Regions from separate parts of the Homo sapiens genome. Here region 2 is reported to be linked to region 1. Evidence: microRNA targets listed by miRTarBase, many of them from high-throughput screens and not tested one by one. Region 1 holds a microRNA gene; the other region holds the end of a gene's coding sequence.
What was found. Region 1 holds the annotated microRNA hsa-miR-933 (UGUGCGCAGGGAGACCUCUCCC, at 1,028-1,049, opposite strand). A microRNA usually pairs through its seed, bases 2 to 8, with sites in the 3' UTR of a target mRNA and lowers its output. Matches are read on the target gene's strand: a 7mer-m8 pairs with bases 2 to 8, a 7mer-A1 pairs with bases 2 to 7 and ends in A, and an 8mer does both.

Region 2: miRTarBase lists SOX5 as a target of hsa-miR-933. The part of its 3' UTR that is shown has no 7-base or 8-base seed match.

The regions. Positions count from the first base shown.
Region 1 is chr2:175,166,615-175,170,026 of GRCh38, forward strand. MIR933 (microRNA 933) reads right to left here and starts at 1,095; the gene lies at 1,019-1,095. ATF2 (activating transcription factor 2) reads right to left here and starts at 1,589. Exons shown (of 14, transcript NM_001880.4): 1 at 1,436-1,589. RefSeq lists a silencer at 1,538-1,607.
Region 2 is chr12:23,531,057-23,534,468 of GRCh38, reverse strand. It overlaps SOX5 (SRY-box transcription factor 5), which reads left to right. Exons shown (of 15, transcript NM_006940.6): 15 at 1-3,412. The coding sequence ends at 250. Among named protein-coding and RNA genes, the nearest start is that of SOX5, 420 kb to the left of the region's middle.

The DNA.
Region 1 (3,412 bases):
TGTAGGTTTGACTTTTTAACAAGCTTTTATAAATAAAGCTTTACCTTCATAATTTTGATTCAAGAGACCAAAGCTATATGGCTATTTAAAGATCAGAACGGCTGTTACTCACAATGATAACGCCAGTGGTCATGTTTCTTCAAATAGGACAAAAAGTGTGCTCAAAGAAAGTCAGTTTTTGTTCTGATTTTAAATGTATATCTTAAATGCATGCATTGTGACCGTCTCCATAATTTAAAACCTCTAAGAAATTTAAACTTTCACATTATAATTTAGGGATTAGTCAATCCCTTAGTACCAGTTAAATAATAGCCAGGAAAGCATTAGAAAACCTGAAGGTACATGTAAAGAAATGCTTTACATCACTATTTAAAATAGGTGTTGAATTTTAAGAGAAACATTTCTTTCACTAAAATTTCTGATGCCTAAGGTCCATCAGGAGTAATCTCTTTTACTCCATGATATTCACAGTAGTTTTGCTCTTGGCCTCACCAGTTTTAAGACTCTCCATTAAAGAAAGCCAATTTTATACTACCTAGGGGCACAAAAATAGTTCCCAGCTCCTCCTCTCTTTTTCCTCCTAGGTTCGGTTAAACGAGCGAACATAGAAAACACGTACACACACTCCCTTTCGGCCCTGGTCCCTAGGGCATTGATGAAAAGCAAATTATTTCTTTACATACGCTCTGCTGTCCACCCAGAGATTTAAAAAAAAAAAAATAAGGGAAAATACCAGAATCAGTCTGCACCCACACCTAAGCCCCGCCCCACCGGGAAAAAGCTGGGGGTAGCGGGATTGTGAGGGTGGCGGAAAGGACGGAAAAGGCCGAGACTTCCAGCTCCTAGGTTCTCCACACCATTCTTTCCTTCAAGCTGCACCGCAGCCAGGGACCCTGATTCTATTTTCAGCCGCGCCTCCCGATCCTCCTCCCCGCCACCATCACCAATACACGGTCCTCAATCGCTTGAATACTGGGTGGGGAGACCAGAGTGGGCCCTCTCCCCGCCCAACCCAAGGACTGTGGGTGGGAGAGGTCTCCCTGCGCACACGGCTGACTCGACGCGCGCCCCGAGGACCTCTGAACTGACCCAAGTAGGGTGAAGATAATTCGGAGGGAGGGGTCTAAGAGGGAGCCGTTATTCCTTTTTCCTCTGCCTTAGGAAAGCGCGCGAGAGGGAGGGGCCGGAACAACGAACGCTGGTTACCTAACGGTCCGGCCCAGCCAGTCAGGTTCCCAAAGCCCACACCGCGCGGGCCGCCGAGGTGGCAGCACAGCCACAATCGCCCCAAGGGCTAAGGAGCACGTCAGGAGCACCCGAGGTGATGGGAAACGGGGGGTGGGGACTGTGCTGAGCGACGTCGCCATGTTAGCGCCTTCTTTCTCCGTATCCCTACAGTCTCCAGCCCTGCTGACCTCTGCCCATCGTTACTCACCTTTCCAGGTCACTAGTTCATGATCCTTTCGGTCACCCGCGAGCCCTGAGCACAGCCGTGTTTACAAAGCACCCCTGGAGGAAAAGGCTGAACGGCACTTTAAAGGCCACGGGCTCCCACAGGCTTCCGTCCTCTCTCGCGAGATCGGACTGACAACCCCCGCCCGCTCGCCCCGCTCCCGGCATCCCCACCTTCCTTCTGGCGCCCCTCCCCTTCACCCACACGCCCCTTCTTGCCTTCCTTCTGAGGGAGCGCCTCCGAGTCAGGTGATTCCGTCAGGCTTAAGGAGAAGAAGGCGGGTCTTCGGCAGGGCGGGTAGAGGGGACGGGCATCAAAGAGCACTCGGGCGCTCATGATTGGACAAGGAGCCCGAAGGGCGGGAAGCAGTTCTGGAGGGGGCGGGACCAGAGGGCCCAAGGAGCGTTACTTCTGTAAACCCGGAGCTGTGGAAGACTGTGATTGGCTGTCGGCTGGAGGAGGGCGCGGGTGCAGGCGGCGGTGAAGGGCTAGGCAGGGCTTTGGCGGTGTGAGGGGAGGAAAGGTGGTGAGCTCCGGAAAGGCTGCTAGAGGGAAAGCAGGATGGGTCCTCCGAGCCCAGCCCCAGGAGCCGGGTGTCTCCGTTTCCGTCACTTCCCAGCACTAGGTAGGGAGGTGGGTAAAAGTAGGCTGCGTTCCTCAGCCCACCCCTTGGCTCCCCGGGAGCCTGAGGCGGGGAGCTTCGGGTTAGGTGAGGTTTGGGGGAGGCGGAGTTTGCTGGTAATTGCCCATCCCTCCCCTCCAAAAAACCCCACACAACTTAAAGATTTTAATATTAACTGTAAGGATGTTGGTTATTCAATAAATAGGCACAAGTTGAAAAGTATGATCAGAGGCCTCTGTGAGAATTTACATTATTCAATAAAAGATTTTCAGTGTCTTATTTTTTCCATTTATTAAATACTGATTTCTAGTCTGGAACAAAATTATGAACTAGTTTATATATTAACATAAAATACACTCTCAAAATTGTTGAAAGGTTTTGGGGGATAGTATGAGAGTTAATGAGCCTGAAGTTCAAGAATGATATCTGGCATAAAAGTGAAATTGTAATGGCATTGACATTTTAACAGGTAGGTCTCTGGACCGCATACATGTGTATAAGCCAACTCAGTCCTCTTTTAAAACTAATTTTAGTTAAGAAACATTAAGCCAAATTATTAACACTTTCCTACTTAAAATGAAAGTACCGTCCCCATATAGTAACAGTAATGTAGTAGTGCCATTGTAGTGTAACACTAATTATGTCAGCAAAACCTCACAGTTCAGATTACTCATGATGGAAATGGTGGACAAAATGTTTGATTGACATCACAATTGTTAGGTCTAGAACGCATTGATTAAATAGATGCTTCTCTCTCCATCTCCCAAAACAACTAATGTGAGAAAAAGAACTGCAAATGTTACGACATTTCAAAAGAAGTTTGGGTCAATTAGAATAGATTTTTTTAAAAAAATTGTTTTTCCATTTGAAATTTTTTCCAGTGTTGATTCAATTGGGCAGTAGCTTTGGTTTTAAATTTCTCATTGCTACTTCTCCAGTCTGTTGTCAAGCAGTTAGTTATCTACATGATGCATTCGAGAAACACATTATTTTAAAGAAAGTCTTTCAGTTCTTTTTAGACAAGAGAAGAACTGTTTAGTGATATGAACAGTACTCTGATCTGTTTTGATAATTCAGTTTTAGCTAATTTTCTAAAGAGAGGGTATACCTAAAGTGAGAAAAAAAAATAAGATAGGCGCAGGAAACAGGTGGAAACTATGCCGATCTGTTATATATGCATTTTGGCAGCCCGGCATTTAACAAAGGGTCTCACTTTATCCACATATTTCTAGTTCCACAGCAGTTTGTTTACTATAGTTTTTCTACAAGTGGGGAAAACATTCAGCATTGTCAAAATGAATGTAGTTACCATATTCAGGTCTGATTCCATGAACTTG
Region 2 (3,412 bases), not on the chromosome of region 1:
CGCCATGGCTGGGATGCCCTCCCCTCACCTGCCCTCGGAGCACTCAAGCGTGTCTAGCAGCCCAGAGCCTGGGATGCCTGTTATCCAGAGCACTTACGGTGTGAAAGGAGAGGAGCCACATATCAAAGAAGAGATACAGGCCGAGGACATCAATGGAGAAATTTATGATGAGTACGACGAGGAAGAGGATGATCCAGATGTAGATTATGGGAGTGACAGTGAAAACCATATTGCAGGACAAGCCAACTGATAAGGGTCAAAAGATTGTTGTGACCTTAGGACTTAAAGAAGCCCTAACTGGTTCATCCTTACCAGTGGCCAAGCACATTAACTTTCTCATACACTGACTGTTACTTTAACTGTTAGTCTTAAATAGTTGGGACATCAGCTGACTAATAGACCTCAGCCTCAAAAGGCTTGGAAAGAAAAAACAAATACAACAAGCAAACAACAATATCAACAACAAGAGATTGAAATAAGCTATGGGTAAAATAATGCCAGTAATTCAGCTGCTACATCCAAGCACTGAAGTCTTACCCGTCAACTTTTTTTTTTTTTTAAATAAACTTTATGGCTGTTTGTTCTACAATGTTCTAGAAATTCTCACTCAGGTACACAGTGCCAACAAGTGGCTTGTGAATGTGTTTTGTTGTTTTGTGCTACAATTTTTAAAAAGAAAAAAGTTTTGTTTTGTTTTTTGGGGTTTCTGGGTTTTTTCCTTTTCTTTTTCTTTCCTTTCATTTTTTTTCTTTGTAATGCACCTGACAGAAAAAAAAGAAAAATGAATTTCTCTTTACTTCTCTCCACCTTCTCCATCTCTCTACTTTAAAGATGGAAGTCTGTGCATGAGGGGAAAGAGGGAAAAAGAGCCTGTTTTTAACTTCCTTGCTATCCACCACAAAATAAGCAATTATTTTCTTTAGAGGACTTTATCTATTGCACACCACACTACATCTTTGAGCAAGTGCCAAATTTGTACTGAAGTGTTGACCAAGTTCATTTTTTCTCTTTACTTTTTCCTTTTCCTTCTTAAGTTAGGACAGTGTTAAATCTTAGACAATCCCTTGAAAAACCTGAAATACCAGCAGCTGGTGAGATTTGACTTTTTTTTTTAATGGAAACTGTAGGTGCTGTTCTCAGGTGAAAAGAGAGAGAGAGAGAGAGACATAAGAAATTTAGAGAAAAATATTTTCTGATCTTGGATTTTTGTGTGTATGTATGTATGTGATTATGGTACTAATAATAGGAATAACGTTGGACCATTGTGAGTTAAACCCACATCTGGGGATGAAATCCCACATCCTCCCAAGTGACTGGTCTAGAAATAATCTTGACCTTGACTTTGCACTTCAAATGACAACTTAACCAAGTATAGGGCTCAGAAATTATATTTTTAAATGTCTGATTATTATTGGATGGATCAGGTGGCCCTGTGTAATAGAGGTGTGCATGTATAACATGGAAGCTACTAGCAAACTGCTCCCAGATGTCCTTTCTCCCTGGTCAGTTGGTTCCATTAACGTTTGCTACTTAGTGATTTTTGTTTTTCCTGTTGATATTTTGAGCAAAACAATCATTGTTTTCATTGAATATATTTGGCCATTTTTTCAGACAAATAGAATTAGCTTATTTCTTCAACATTCCATCCTTTCCCGATCAGGAAATGAAACTGATGATTTTATAAGGTATTTTTCACCCCTCCATGAAGTGAGGTGGAGGCCTTTAGCATTTCAGAAGTGTGGGCCATATGTAGTTCATGCCATAAAAAGTAGGATTTAATTAAAAGTCATTGCAGCCCAATAAAATGGAGCCTGGCTGCACCCAGGGATCCTTGCCACTGCTCTTCCCTTGCTGTCAGATTAATCCACTGAAGTCCAACTTTGGTTCAAGCAGAGTATTTGCAAAGAGCAACAACTGAATGTGATGGGACTGCTTATGTAGATTTTGCCAGCCAAATGCCAAGGCAGTTGTAGGGCCTGTACAAATAAATGCAAAATCATTTCAAGTCAATTGCCATTATTTGTATTGAAGTATCAGATAGATAGTAAATACTGCAACTAGTAGCTTGATGTGCTATAGTTTTCACTCCAGTCATCATTTTCCTATCTCACCCCCCGAAACACCACCCTAAAGTTGGATTTTTACATATAAATAAAAAAAGAATCCCTTTTATTTTTCTCTCTCTCAGAAGACTTGCTCTGGGGTTTTGCTTGGAGGAGCTGATCATATCCTGCATGTCAGAGATTTCATTTTGTTTGTTTTTCTGTTTGTTTGTTTTTGATGACTTTATTTACATTTGAACTGCCTCTTTTTGCTAGTGTTGTAATGATGATGATGATAAAATAATAATAATAATAGTAATAATAATAATAATGGTCAGCTGTTCCCAGATTAGTAAGTTATGTATAATTTATTTTATTTCTCCCTTTCTATTTTATTCTGCTCTGATTTGGAAGTGCAGCCAATAAGCTGTTAGATATTTAAAACAAATTTCCATCTCCAACTCATATATGTATGTATATGTATATATATATATACATATATATACACACATATACACACACACACACACATTTACCCACAATTTTACTTCTCTTTCCGTAAGTTTTCTCTTTTTTAAGAATTTTGGCCCCAACAATATCAGTTCTGATGTTTAAAACAAAGGAGTGAATTAATAGGAGGGTCGTGTTCAATCTTAATTAACTTATGCTCTCATCACTCATTTTAGTTATTTAATTGCCACAGTCATCTAGAGCCAATTTTTTTTTGTTTTTGTTTGTTTTGTTTTTAAGCACTCTGGATAAGGAAAAAATAGACACTTGTTTTTATATCATTTTTATGTACAATGTGAAAACAGATTTTTAAAAAATTTGTTCTCTGTCTTTGTTAACAAATTCCTTCCGATTTATGTGGGTTCACCTCTCACGTTTGCTGGATACTTACTTTACACCATGTTATGAAAGATGCTTTGTTTTCATTTCATGAGTTTGGGCTACAAGAATACTTTGTTTTAGCTCCAGGTAGATGCCATTGAAGGCATTCATGGCTGAAATCAATTCTAACACACTTACCGATGAATTGACAACACTTTGGTGTTTGGTCTTTTTTTTGTTATATTTTGTTTTATTTGAAGGGGAAAACAAAATTGTTAATGGTGACTTTTAACTGCTGAAATTCAAAATTTGATTTTAGTTAGGTTTATGTCCGAGACTAAACTGTGCATGAACCGAAACAAAAAGCAAGTTCATACCGCTGCATTCTGTTCTCTTGTTCTGACGGTTAATTCACTGGACATCAAATTTTCTTTGCCCTAGTTTTCCCCAAAAGAAAACAAAAGCAAAAATAGTTATATTAATGTTGAAAGTGCTTTGAAGTCACTTGATAAAAGGTGCTATGAATAGCAACTTACTGT